Linked DNA regions of Homo sapiens. The protein of the gene in region 1 purifies or fractionates together with the protein of each later gene. This does not show direct contact. Each region holds a gene or a part of one and is shown in the gene's direction. Other genes may lie near its edges.

What was found. The genes of interacting proteins can lie anywhere in the genome.
Region 2: the proteins of STRA6 (region 1) and SLC9A1 purify together in Homo sapiens (affinity purification with mass spectrometry; one large-scale study listed by BioGRID and IntAct). This does not show direct contact.
Region 3: the proteins of STRA6 (region 1) and TMEM169 purify together in Homo sapiens (co-immunoprecipitation; one large-scale study listed by IntAct). This does not show direct contact.
Region 4: the proteins of STRA6 (region 1) and ATP1A3 purify together in Homo sapiens (co-immunoprecipitation; one large-scale study listed by IntAct). This does not show direct contact.

What each region holds. Positions count from the first base shown.
Region 1 is NC_000015.10:74,192,788-74,196,287, reverse strand, and holds part of STRA6 (receptor for retinol uptake STRA6), read left to right. Parts: intron 1-140; coding exon 141-280; intron 281-612; coding exon 613-636; coding exon of another isoform or gene 637-686; exon of another isoform or gene 687-819; coding exon 820-986; exon of another isoform or gene 987-1,901; intron 1,902-2,365; coding exon 2,366-2,488; intron 2,489-3,500. UniProt on the Homo sapiens protein: Functions as a retinol transporter. Accepts all-trans retinol from the extracellular retinol-binding protein RBP4, facilitates retinol transport across the cell membrane, and then transfers retinol to the cytoplasmic retinol-binding protein RBP1.
Region 2 is NC_000001.11:27,148,626-27,152,125, reverse strand, and holds part of SLC9A1 (sodium/hydrogen exchanger 1), read left to right. Parts: intron 1-3,500. UniProt on the Homo sapiens protein: Electroneutral Na(+) /H(+) antiporter that extrudes Na(+) in exchange for external protons driven by the inward sodium ion chemical gradient, protecting cells from acidification that occurs from metabolism.
Region 3 is NC_000002.12:216,098,919-216,101,100, forward strand, and holds part of TMEM169 (transmembrane protein 169), read left to right. Parts: intron 1-1,001; coding exon 1,002-1,624; 3' UTR 1,625-2,182.
Region 4 is NC_000019.10:41,980,731-41,984,230, reverse strand, and holds part of ATP1A3 (sodium/potassium-transporting ATPase subunit alpha-3), read left to right. Parts: intron 1-2,124; coding exon 2,125-2,323; intron 2,324-2,399; coding exon 2,400-2,509; intron 2,510-2,594; coding exon 2,595-2,729; intron 2,730-3,500. UniProt on the Homo sapiens protein: This is the catalytic component of the active enzyme, which catalyzes the hydrolysis of ATP coupled with the exchange of sodium and potassium ions across the plasma membrane.

The sequences.
Region 1 (3,500 bases):
GAATGAATGAAGGGGCCTTATTCCCCCATCTAGAAAGTGGGACTGACTCCACCTCCTTGATTTATGGAATACAGCTGGGAGGTAATGGGGGTGCAGGGGCTGAGCAACTCCCTCCTGCCCTGTCCTTGCCTCTGTGCTAGCCCTGTGGATTTCTTGGCTGGGGACAGGCCCCGGGCAGTGCCTGCTGCTGTTTTCATGGTCCTCCTGAGCTCCCTGTGTTTGCTGCTCCCCGACGAGGACGCATTGCCCTTCCTGACTCTCGCCTCAGCACCCAGCCAAGGTACCCACTGACCCCCAGGCCCTGGGGTTGGTGTGATGGGATGGGGTAGGGTGGGGTCTCGGAGTTTTAAGCTTGGCTCAAGGAGATGAGAGTAACAGGAACAGCTGTCAATGAGATGGGCTGCTATCCTGAGACGTGACCTTTTTAGACCATCCAGTCTTTACAACGATGCTACAAAGTATGCATATTAGCCCCATTTTGCAATGGAGGAACTGAGAGCCAGGGAAGTAGTATCTTAAATTGAGTATTTGCTCAGGCACCATGCTAAGCATTATATATCCACCTTCTCATTTTGCCCTTGCTAATATACTGTGATTATTTTCATTTTACAGATGGGAAAACTGAGGCTCCAAGAGGTAACTTGCCCAAGATCACAGAGTTGAGACTAGTCAGAGCCTGGATTTGAACCTAGTGTTCTTGCCCACTGAACGTGCTGAAGGGCTTGGAAGCTGGAGACCGAAGAGAGGCCTGGGTGGGCTCACTGCAGGCCCCATGTCTGCCCCTCCAGCATGGGTCTCTCTGCTTGTTTCACCTTCCAGGGGCCTGGAAGATACTGGGACTGTTCTATTATGCTGCCCTCTACTACCCTCTGGCTGCCTGTGCCACGGCTGGCCACACAGCTGCACACCTGCTCGGCAGCACGCTGTCCTGGGCCCACCTTGGGGTCCAGGTCTGGCAGAGGGCAGAGTGTCCCCAGGTGCCCAAGGTAACCGCTGATCACAATGGCCTAGGGCAGAGGGGCGCACAGAGCAACCTACTCAAACCACAGTGCCTCCTTTGAGCTCTGATTCTATGATGGGCCGCCCTGCAGCCTTCCATTGTGCATGGGATTCCATGCCTTCAAACATGTGCCCCTTCCAAGCTTGGCTGCTCTGCAGGAGAGGCAGGGAACAAGGTGGCTGGGCCCAGCCCTCAGGAACTTTAAGTCTAGGAGGTGGCGGAGAAGGGGAAGTGGGCAGAGTAGGGGGAAGAGAAAGCCTGAAATGGCCCCCACCCCCAATGCCTGTGTTAGTGATCCCCCAGCTTCCCTTTGGTCAGGCTGGAGAGGGAATGGGAGTGAAGCTTGATGGAGGCCGGCAAGTGCGAAGTCAGGGATGGTCTAAGAGGGCTGAGAGGAGAATTCCGGAACCTCAGGACCTTGCTCACTGGCTGCTGGCTGGGGCTGTGAAGCTGTCCAGTCTAGAACTCAAAGAGTGATGGTACAGGCTTTAGAGCCAGACAACCTGAGTGTGAATCCAGCTTCACCACTTCATTCATTCACTCACCCATTCATTCAACAACATATTTGAAGCACATACTTTGTACCAGGGACATTTCCAGGCACTGGACTACAGCTATGAACAAGACAAACAGTCCCTAGCCTCCCAAGAGCCGTCACTTCAGAAGGGCAGACATGACACGCAAACAAAATGATGCCAGGTGGTACCAAGTGCCTTGGGGAAACAGTGCCACCTTTCTGAGACCGTTTCTCCATCCGTCCATGGAGCTGATAACACCAGTCCCTCAGGGTGGAGGTGAAGACTAAGAGGTTGCTTTGAGAGGGGGAACTTGGTGGCTTTTTTTCACCACCTAGAACCTGGCACATACTAAGCTCTCAATAAAAGTATATTGAACCAACAAATAAATGAATGAGTATACAAAAAGCCCACCCCCAGGAAGGCCTCAGCCCTGAGGAGTAGGGCATAGACTTTCCTGATGCTCAGGTTGAAAACTATATGTAGGCAAAGGCAGGCTTTCGTGTGATTTTCAGAACTGTTCCTAATGCTCCGGGAACACAGAAACAGAAAGAGGTGTCCTTTCCAGTGGGGGGCAGGAGGGAATCAAGTGATCTCCTCCTCTTGGCTCCTCTCAGGCCCGTGGGGATCCAGGAGCCTGGGGGAGGGGTGAGCATCTCTGCAGGGCTCGAGAAGGGGAAGTGGGCAGGTTTGCGCTGGGTGGCAGGTTGGGAACCATAGAGCTGAAGCCTTCCCATGGCCCCCCAGACCACCCTCAGGGCCCAGTGTGAGGTGGGAAGGGCAACGGATTCTGGTTCTTGGCTGGGGGAAGAAGGTGGAAAGTAGTCTGTCTGGGTGTTTGTCTGTCCAGATCTACAAGTACTACTCCCTGCTGGCCTCCCTGCCTCTCCTGCTGGGCCTCGGATTCCTGAGCCTTTGGTACCCTGTGCAGCTGGTGAGAAGCTTCAGCCGTAGGACAGGAGCAGGCTCCAAGGTAAAGGGGCAGGCCTGGGATGAGCTCTTCCTCAGCACCCAAGACAGCCCTACTCCCCCGTATCTGTGGTCCCAGATACATGGCCGTGCTTGATGTAGGGCCCAGCACAGAATAGATGCTCAGAAAATGTTTGCTGAGTGACTGCTTAGTCCTCCCTCCCTAGGCAAAAGCTGGACTGGGCCCTTGACTGGCACCCAGGATACCCGCGGCACTGGGCTGTGTGAATAGTAGGGACTTAACAAAGCAGAACTGAGTCAGAAGCCAGGAGAGTCATATCTCTGTCTGTGAAACACTGAGATCTGGCTGGAGAGACAGCCTGGAGCCTTGTGCCTAATCCGAGTTCTGCACATAATGAGATGATTCAGGAAGCACCCAGGGCAGAACTCCATTATGAGTCAACTCTAGGTTGGATGTGGTTGAATAATTTCAGATAAAGGGGAGGGCTGAGAGGGCTTCCTAGAGGAGGTAGACTCTACAAGGGCCTGAAGGACAGGGAGATCTAGAGTGATGAGAGAATAAGGAGCAGGCATTGTAGGCACGGGAAAGAGCATGAGTAAAGGGGAAGAGATAGTTTTGTGTCTGTTTTGTTCATTATATTTGCAGCACTGGGTGGGTCTTGGCCCTTAATAGATACTCAGCAAATATTTTTGAATTTTTGAATAGATGGATGAATGGATGGATGGATCGAAGGAAAGATGTATGGAAGGAAGGATGGATGGATGAATGCATCATGGTAAAAGAGAATTCTTAGAAGATACTTCAATCTCACTAAAAAGCCTTCTAAGCACCTACCATATGTCAGGCCCCGGGCTCAGTGCTGTGGACTTGGAGCTGATGGACTTGTGTCTGATCTCCAGGAGCTCCCAGTGTGGTGGGGGAGACAGATGCGGCACAAAACACCTGCAGTGCAATGTGAAACCTGCACCGGGTGTTGGGACTGTGGTGCAGGGGGCGGGGTCCACTACTTCTTTCTGGTGAGAGAGGAGGAGGAAGAAAGCTCTGCAGAGACCCT
Region 2 (3,500 bases), on another chromosome or scaffold:
CATGGCAACAATATCAGTCTAGAAGTCAGGAAAACCTGGCTTCTCTTCCTACCTCCCTCTGTCCTTGGACCAGTCACGCCTCCCTACCCATCAGTTGATCTTTGTGGTCCCTTCCAGGTGTGATATTTCTGTCATTCCACTGACTCTGGAAACTCTGGCAAGTCACTCAGCCTTGGACCTCAGTTTTCCCATTGTAAAATGATGAGGCTGGATGTGGTCTCCTTTCCAAAAGTCTGTTTCTGCCTTGGAAAGGCATTTTTCTGCCTCTGAAAACAGGAGTTCTAGCATCTGGCCATGAGTGGAGAGAAAGGTGGTCTAAAGATCTGAAGAGTCCCTGTTCAGGCCTCAAAAATGAAAGCCCATTTTTCCCAGCTTCACCTTTGCAGTGTGGAATTCAGCCACCACTCTGCCACTTAGCAGCATCTCTGAGCCTCAGTTTCCTCATGTATAAAAGGGGAACTAAGCTGGGCGCAGTGGCTCACGCCTGTAATCCCAGCACTTTGGGAGGCTGAGGCAGGGTGGATCGCCTGAAGTCAGGAGTTTTGATACCAGCCTGGCCAACATGGTGAAACCCCGTCTCTACTAAAAATACAAAAAATTAGCTGGGCATGGTGGCGGCTGCCTGTAATCCCAGCTACTCTGGAGGCCAAGGCAGGAGGATCGCTTGAACCCAGGAGGCGGAGGTTGCAGTGAGCCAAGATTGCGCCATTGCACTCCAGCCTGGGCAACAAGAGTGAAATTCCGTCTCTAAATAAATAAATAAAAAAAAATAAAATGGGAACTAATAGTATCCAGTTATAGTGCTATTAATGTGATTATTACATAAATAAATGCACATAAAAGTTTGTATACACAGGAAGTGTTCAATGAGTGACAGCTGCCCCTGTTAATATTTTAACCACCTACAGCAAATGCATCCCTACCTCAGCCTCCTACAACCTTCCTCTGAGCTGAAGGATTACAAATCTCTCAAACCTAGGCTGCCACCAATGTCCTTCCTTAGGGTATCAGGGTTTCCATGTGTCCTATACTGTTCACTTGAGCTGGTCATGGCGGGAGGGAAGATGACACCAGCTGCCTTGTAGGGATAAGGGTGGGGGGCTGAGGCCATGCTCCCTCTGCACTCTCAGATACCCAAGAGCCTGGGAGCTGATTTTGGGGTCTTGCCTATTCTCTCAACACCCCTGCGTGGGTAGGAGTTCCGTTGGAGCCCTCATTCTGTCATCTATGGCAGCTGCTTCCCTTGCAGGTTACCCCTCCTATAAGAATAGAAAGTGCTTTGCAGTTCTCCTTCCTACCCTAACCATGGAGCAGAGCCTCGGGTAGACTCTTGCAGAGACTGGGGTGGGAGGAGCAGGGTGGGAGCTGAAGTTCTAGAATAGTTGCTTCTGGGTTCTAGTCTACCTCTGACTCAGTGGGTGACATTAGGTAAGTCACCTTCCCTCTCTGGACCTTTTTTCTCTCCCCAGCAGTCAGGAATTCTTGCTTGTCCTTGGTGGGGAGGGGCCAGTGGTGTGAAGAGGATTTAGGCTATTGGGAAAACTGTGGGAATGACTCCAAGCCTTAGGAGTTAGGTGCATTCCCCACCCCACATTGTGCTGTGGACCCCGCATGAACTCTGCTTTGTTCCATGTTCACCTGACTCCCAGGCTAGTACTTATTCCAGAGGAGAGCCTCACTGTAACTCAGCTCACCACTGGCATCTCCTGCAATTGTTTACCCATGTTCCTGACCCAGAATGCCTGGCAGAGGCCCGGGAGCCCATAAAGCAGGTATTCATCTTGTCTCCTGACCAGGGACACAAAAGGCTTCTTTTGTCCCTTTATATCTTATAGCTTTTTTTGGTTTTGGTCTTTGCAAGGCGAATCCTGCCATCTCCTCTGTAGATTAAGTCTGTGAATAGGGGAGATGGGGTCACTGCCCACTTCACATGCATGGATATCAGACCCAGCAACTGGTTTCCTATAAAAATGACACTAGAAGGTGCCTCTCTCACTTCTCAAAAGAAGAGAAGAACAAATAGCCTAAAGGTCACCTTGAAACTGTCTCAAGAAGCCCAGATAGGACTCTAAAAAGGAAGCGATGACCTTTTTCTCTTTGGGAAAATAGCAGACTGACTGCAGAACAGTGGGAGGGAGGTCAGCTGGGGACTGGGAGGAAGGCTTCAGGTAGGACATGTGTCTCTAGGAGTGCCAAGGCACTTAGAGGGCTTAGTTGGTCAGATTGCCCAGACTTCATTCAGCTGAGCACCCTCGAAGTTTGCCTTTCCTCTCCTTCCAAGCCAGCCCCATGGCGTCCAGCCCTGGTACAAAGGAAAGACGTAGTCAGAAGCCCTGGGTTCTGCTCCTGATGCTGCCTCTCAGTACCTGTGTGACCATGAACCTTGAGGTTCATGCACCTCATTCTCTGAACCTGACTTGCCTCATCCTTAAGACCAACGTAGAGGCTGAACGTGGGAATGCCTGGTAGAGTGCCCAGCTCACTGTAGTAACTTTCAGGGCCGTGCAGATTCTTCCCCTTTTGGGAGGTCTTCCCAGCCCACAGCAGTCACTTTCTCTTTCTCTCCCAAACCCTTTTCCCTTATTGTTTATCCATAACAGTGGCATTAGGCCTTGCCTGCCCTGTGACATCTCCTGTGTTGAACGGGTGTGTGTGTTTTAATAATAGTTGCCACTTAGTATCTACAGAGTAGTGTCAGGCACTTTATAAAAGCAATCTTATTTAATCCCTACTCAAATCACATGAGATAAAAGCTGTCTCTGTTTTGCAGATGAGGAAATGGCTCAGAGAGGTTATCTTCAGTGATGTCAAATTGCTATTTATTGTCTGTTCGAGTCTTGGCATAGCCTGCTAGAGGGGTGCAGCTGCATCTCCTGCCTCTGGCATTCCCGCAGCAGATGCACATGGCCCTGCACTGAGAAGCGCCCAGCTCACTGCACCTGCACTCAGGAATTGTAGGACTCCCTCTAGGAGTTGGGCACATGTCGTTGGTGGGAGCCCTGTCCCTGCCTTGAGAAAGCTGTAGGTGTTCTGTGTCCAGCTGTGCACCTGTCCTTTGTTTTTGTGAGTCTTCTTGGATGCACCTGAATCCTGCATTCAGGAGGCCTATCCCTTGTTCTCTGCTAGCAACCCTGCCTGCTATCTCTCTTCCGGTGCCCTCTCAGCCATCAGACCAGAGCTTGCTTCTTCCCTGCTTGGGCAGGGAAGTGCCAGGTAAAGGGTGGTCTCCTTTAGCCACAAGGGGTGGCTGACCTTATGACCTCCCGCCTCTGAGCAGAAAGGTGACAGGCTGCTTTTGGTTACCCTCAGGGCCCAGCAGAGTCCCCTGAGAGGCAGCCTCTGTTGGGAGCAGGTGGCACAACTTTGTTTAGCTCTACAAGGCAGGAGGAGTTTAATAGTACTTCTCATTAGCACTGAAATTTGTTTCCAAAGCACTTGTGTGTACAATATTTAATTTAGATCTTCTCAGTGGTCCTGTGGGTTAGAATAGCATGTGGTAT
Region 3 (2,182 bases), on another chromosome or scaffold:
ATGGGTATGTGGTGTGTGTGTAGAATGTGTATATATGTGGTGTGTGCATACGGCATGTGGGTGGGTATGTGTAGTGTATATATGTGGAATGTGTGGGGGGCAGCATTTGTGTGCATGTATGCTGTGTGTATGTGTGGTGTGTGTGATGTGTATGTGTGTGTGTGGTGTGTTATGTGTGTATGTTGCATGTATGTGTGATATGTATGGGTATGTGGTGTGTATATGGTATGTGTATGTGTTGTATGTGGTATGTGTGGGGAGGTTGTGTGTGGCATGTGTGTGGTGTATGTGTTATGTATGGTGTTTGGTATATGTGGTGTGGGTATGTGGTGTGTATGTGGTATGTGTGATGTGCATGGTGTGTGGTGTGTGGTGTGTGTATGGGATAGTGTAGTGTGTGTATGTGGTACGTGATTGGGAGGTGGCATGTGTATGTGTGTGTATGGTGTGTATGTAGTATGTGAGAGGGTGTATGTGTATGGTATATGTGGGATGCATGTGTGTATGCGTGCAGCCCCTGGATGTGAGGGCTGGATCAGGCATGTGAGGGGCCCCCTCTCAGAAAGCACAGAACTAGGCATGAGAAGGGAAGGTGGTGGCCGTCCATCAGTCCAGTATCTTCACAGCACTTGTTACCTAGAAATAGGATCATCATTTGCATCATGTCTGTATCAAAGTTCGTCACACTCCTCCGTGCCACAGAGATTGTGCCAAGATTGAGGCCCCAAAAAGCGGAGAGAGTAGGTGAAAAGCTTAACCTGCCTCACAATTTTATCAGGGCCCAGGCACAAGGACTGAGAGTTCATGTGGGAGCAATAACACCAGTGGTCACTCTCCCGAGGGAGACCCACTCAGTCCGCCATTGAATCACTGACTCAGGACTGTGCCAGATGGTGTAAAAAAGGCTACTCTTGTCCTCATGCCCAGCCTGGGAGGGTGCAACATGGAGATGCAATGCCCACTCTTCTGATCTTGACTCTCACCTCCTTTGTACCCTGCAGATATGTGGAACCTGCCTCTGGACAGCCGCTACGTCACCTTAACTGGGACCATCACACGAGGGAAGAAAAAGGGTCAGATGGTGGACATCCATGTCACATTGACAGAGAAAGAGCTGCAGGAACTGACCAAACCTAAAGAGTCATCAAGGGAAACGACGCCTGAAGGAAGAATGGCCTGCCAGATGGGAGCTGACCGTGGGCCCCATGTGGTCCTCTGGACGCTGATCTGCCTGCCTGTGGTTTTCATCCTTTCTTTTGTTGTCTCTTTCTACTACGGCACTATCACCTGGTACAACATCTTCCTCGTGTATAATGAGGAAAGGACCTTCTGGCACAAGATCTCGTATTGCCCTTGCCTCGTTCTCTTCTATCCAGTGCTCATCATGGCCATGGCTTCTTCCCTCGGCCTCTACGCTGCTGTGGTCCAGCTCTCGTGGTCCTGGGAAGCATGGTGGCAAGCTGCCCGGGACATGGAGAAAGGCTTCTGTGGCTGGCTCTGCAGCAAGCTGGGTCTGGAGGACTGTTCTCCCTACAGCATTGTGGAGTTGCTTGAATCCGACAATATCTCAAGCACTCTCTCCAACAAGGACCCCATCCAAGAAGTAGAAACCTCCACGGTCTAAACTCCCAACAACTTACTCCCTCCTCTGGCCCCAGTAGCCTATATATCATCTTAAAATTCCAGCAGATTATTTCTTTAAATTACCCCCTACTCTCCGCAGTTCTTCTGGGAAATCAGAGTCCATACTGATCAGTTTTACCATCTTGAGGGTTCCAGGAGGGCATGGAGCAGACAAGCAATTGTGCCAAAGCAGTTCACCCAATGGACAAACTCTTTTTGATTCCCTGCCCTAAAATCACCATTTATTTAGGACAATGGAACTCTGCTGTGTGTCGTTTTGGGAGCCTGGAAGTGTTACTGGTGCCTGGAACTGAGGGGAGTATGTGACTAAATGTGTCAGGGAGAATAAAGAACCTCGGGGTAACCAAATCCACCAAGATAATAGACAGGGATGGAGTGAGACATTTAGGAAGCTGGACTACCACAGTGTAGCAGAAGGTAAAGATTTGTGTGTATCATTTAGATTTAGATTTAGCTGCATAGAATTAAAACCCTAAAATATCAGTGGCTTAAACAAGATAGAAGTGTATTTCTTTCTTGTGCAGAAGAAGTCTGGAGG
Region 4 (3,500 bases), on another chromosome or scaffold:
ATAAATAAATAAAATAAAATAATAAGCCTGGCGCAGTGGCTCACGCCTTTAATCCCAACAGTTTGGGAGGCTGAGGCAGGAGGACTGCTTGAGGTCAGGAGTTTGAGACAAGCCTGGACAACATAGTAAGAACCCATCTCTACCAAAAAATGTGAAGGCTGGGCGCAGTGGCTCATGCCTGTAGTCCCAAGACTTTGGGAGGCCGAGGCGGGTGGATCACCTGAGGTCAGGAGTTCGAGACCAGACTGGCCAACATGGCAAAACCCCATCTCTACTAAAAGTATAAAAATTAGCCAGGCGTGGTGATGGGTGCCTGGAATCCCAGCTACTCAGGAGGCTGAGACAGGAGAATAGCTTGAGCCTAGGAGGCAGAGCTTGCAGTGAGCCGAGATCGTGCCACCTCACTCCAGCCTGGGCGACAAAAGCGAGATTCTGTCTCAAAAAAAAAAAAAAAAAAAAAAAAATTTTTTTAAATTAGCCAGGCGTGGTGGTACATGTCTGTAGTTCCAGCTATTTGGGAGGCTGACCCGGGAGGTTGAGGCTGTAGTGGGCCATGATTGAACCACTGCACTCTAGCCTGTGTGACAGAGGGAGACTCCATCTCAAGAAAATAATAATAATAATAATTATTATAATAATAATAATTATTATTATTATTTTTAAAAATTTTTTCTCTGGCTGCTTTGCTGCCAGCTTCACCCCAGAAGTCCATTCTCTGTGAGGTTCCGCCTGACAGCTGTGAGCATATTGACTAAATGCTGTCTTCAAGGTGCATGGCAGGGACTATCTTAGAAATACCATTCTCCTCTTTCATTCTTTGACTTAATGTTTTATGTGAAGTTTTCCATATTAGGGCCGGGCAGGGTGGCTCACGCCTGTAATCCCAGCACTTTGGGAATCCGAGGTGGGTGGATCACTTGAGGTCAGGAGTTCAAGACCAGCCTGGCCAACATGGCAAAACCCCATCTCTACTAAAAATACAAAAATTAGCCAGGCGTGATGGTGGGCGCCTGTAATCCCAGCTACTTGGGAGGCTGAGGCACAAGAATTGCTTGAACCTGGGAGGTGGAGGTTGCAGTGAGCTGAGATCGAGCCACTGCACTCCAGCCTGGACGACAGAGCAAGACTGTGTCTCAAAAAAAAAAAAAGTTTACTGTTTTCCATATTAGCAATGTTGAATGCTACCCTATGTCAAATGGATTTTTATACGCAAAGGATTAAGCATATTGTGAGCACATAGTCTGATGATTTGGGGCAAACTGAACAGAATCACGTCAGCTGCAACGAGACTGCGTCTCCCTGAAGCCCCCTCAAGACCTTATTTAGCCCCTGCCCCCCAACCCAAGGGTAACCCCTGATCTGGCTGCTAACAGCATAGATTAACTTTGCCTGTGTTCAAACTTCCTATTAACGGAATAATTCAGTATGAACTCATTTCTGGCTCTTTTTGGCTGAACATGTTTTTGACGTTCACCCATGCAGGTGCAGGCAGCAGTAATGTATTTGTTTTTATCAATGTTAGTATTCCATTGTCCACAATTTATCTTTTCTGCTGTTAGTGGACATTTGAGTAGTTTGCAGTTTTGGACAATTTTTTTTTTTTTTGAGTTGGAGTCTCACTCTGTTGCCCAGGCTGGAGTGCAGTGTCACGATTTCGGATCACTGCAACCTCCACCTCCTGGGTTCAAGGGGTTCTCGTGCCTCAGCTTCCCAAGTAGCTGGGATGACAGGAGTGTACCATCATGCCCTGCTAATTTCTGTATTTTTAGTAGGGATGGGGTTTCACCATGTTAGCCAGGCTGGTCTCGAACTCCTGATCTCAAGTGATGCGCCTACCTCGGCCTCCCAAAGTGCTGGGATTACAGGCGTGAGCCACTGCACCTGGCTGTTTTGCACTATTATGCATGTGGCTGCTATGAGCATTCTAGTCCCTGTCTTTGGGTGTCTCTGCCCTGTTTCTATTGGTCTGAATTGGGGGTGGCATTGCTGGGTGCTGCCTCATTCTTTTCCAGGCCCTCAGGATTCTCTGGGGGCTGGGCAGCTGGGCTGTGGCCCTCGTGTCGCTCATCCAACCCTGCTGCCGGGCTTGTCCCTGTAACTTGCCTGCCCTTGCTCGTCCTCCAGGTGTGTCTGACGCTGACCGCCAAGCGCATGGCCCGGAAGAACTGCCTGGTGAAGAACCTGGAGGCTGTAGAAACCCTGGGCTCCACGTCCACCATCTGCTCAGATAAGACAGGGACCCTCACTCAGAACCGCATGACAGTCGCCCACATGTGGTTTGACAACCAGATCCACGAGGCTGACACCACTGAGGACCAGTCAGGTGAGCGCAGGCCCCGGGTGAGGACCATGGGGGCCTGGCTCCAGGAGTCCCTGGCCCTCACACATGCCTCCCCCAGGGACCTCATTTGACAAGAGTTCGCACACCTGGGTGGCCCTGTCTCACATCGCTGGGCTCTGCAATCGCGCTGTCTTCAAGGGTGGTCAGGACAACATCCCTGTGCTCAAGGTGGGTTCAGCTACTGGCCTCACCTCGGCCCTGCCTGTGTCCTCCCCTCAGCTGTCCCTGTTCTGACAACCCTTTCTCCTTGCAGAGGGATGTGGCTGGGGATGCGTCTGAGTCTGCCCTGCTCAAGTGCATCGAGCTGTCCTCTGGCTCCGTGAAGCTGATGCGTGAACGCAACAAGAAAGTGGCTGAGATTCCCTTCAATTCCACCAACAAATACCAGGTACTCTGGGCTTTCCGGGAGAGCCAGCCTGGACCTCAGGTTCCTTATGACGCCTGTAAAGAGGTGTCATAGAGCCTTGATTTTCCCGTCTGTAAAATGGGAATGATAATACCCGCCTGGTGGGGAGAGGAACAGGGAGAGCTTGAGAGTGGGAGCCGGATCTCTGTTGGAGTGAGACGCTGAGGAGTAAAGATCTTCCTGCAGGCCAGGCGCGGTGGCTCACACCTTTAACACCAGAACTTTGGGAGGCTGAGGTGGGGGGATCACTTGAGGCCAGGAGTTCGAGACGAGCCTGGGCAAGATGGCAAAACCCCATCTGTACGAAATTTTTTTTTTAATTAGCCAGGTGTGGTGGTATGTGCCTGTGGTCTCAGCGATTTGGGAGTCTGAGGCAGGAGGATTGCCTGAGCCGGGGAGGTTGGGGCTGCAGAGAGCCTACATCACGCACTGTACTCCAGCCTGGGTGACAGAGCAAGACCCTGACTCAAAAAAAAAAAAAAAGTTTTCCTACAGCAGAGAGTGGGAACAAGCAGGAGACCTCTTGGGGCAGAGCAGCAACTTTAAATTATTCAGCAAACTTTTTTTTTTTTTGAGACAGAGTTTCGCTCTGTCACCCAGGCTGGAGTGCAGTGGCGCGATCTCAGCTCACTGCAAGCTCCACCTCCCGGGTTCACACCATTCTCCTGCCTCAGCCTCCAGAATAGCTGGGACTACAGGCGCCCGCCACCATGCCCAGCTAATTTTTTGTATTTTTAGTAGAGACGGGGTTTC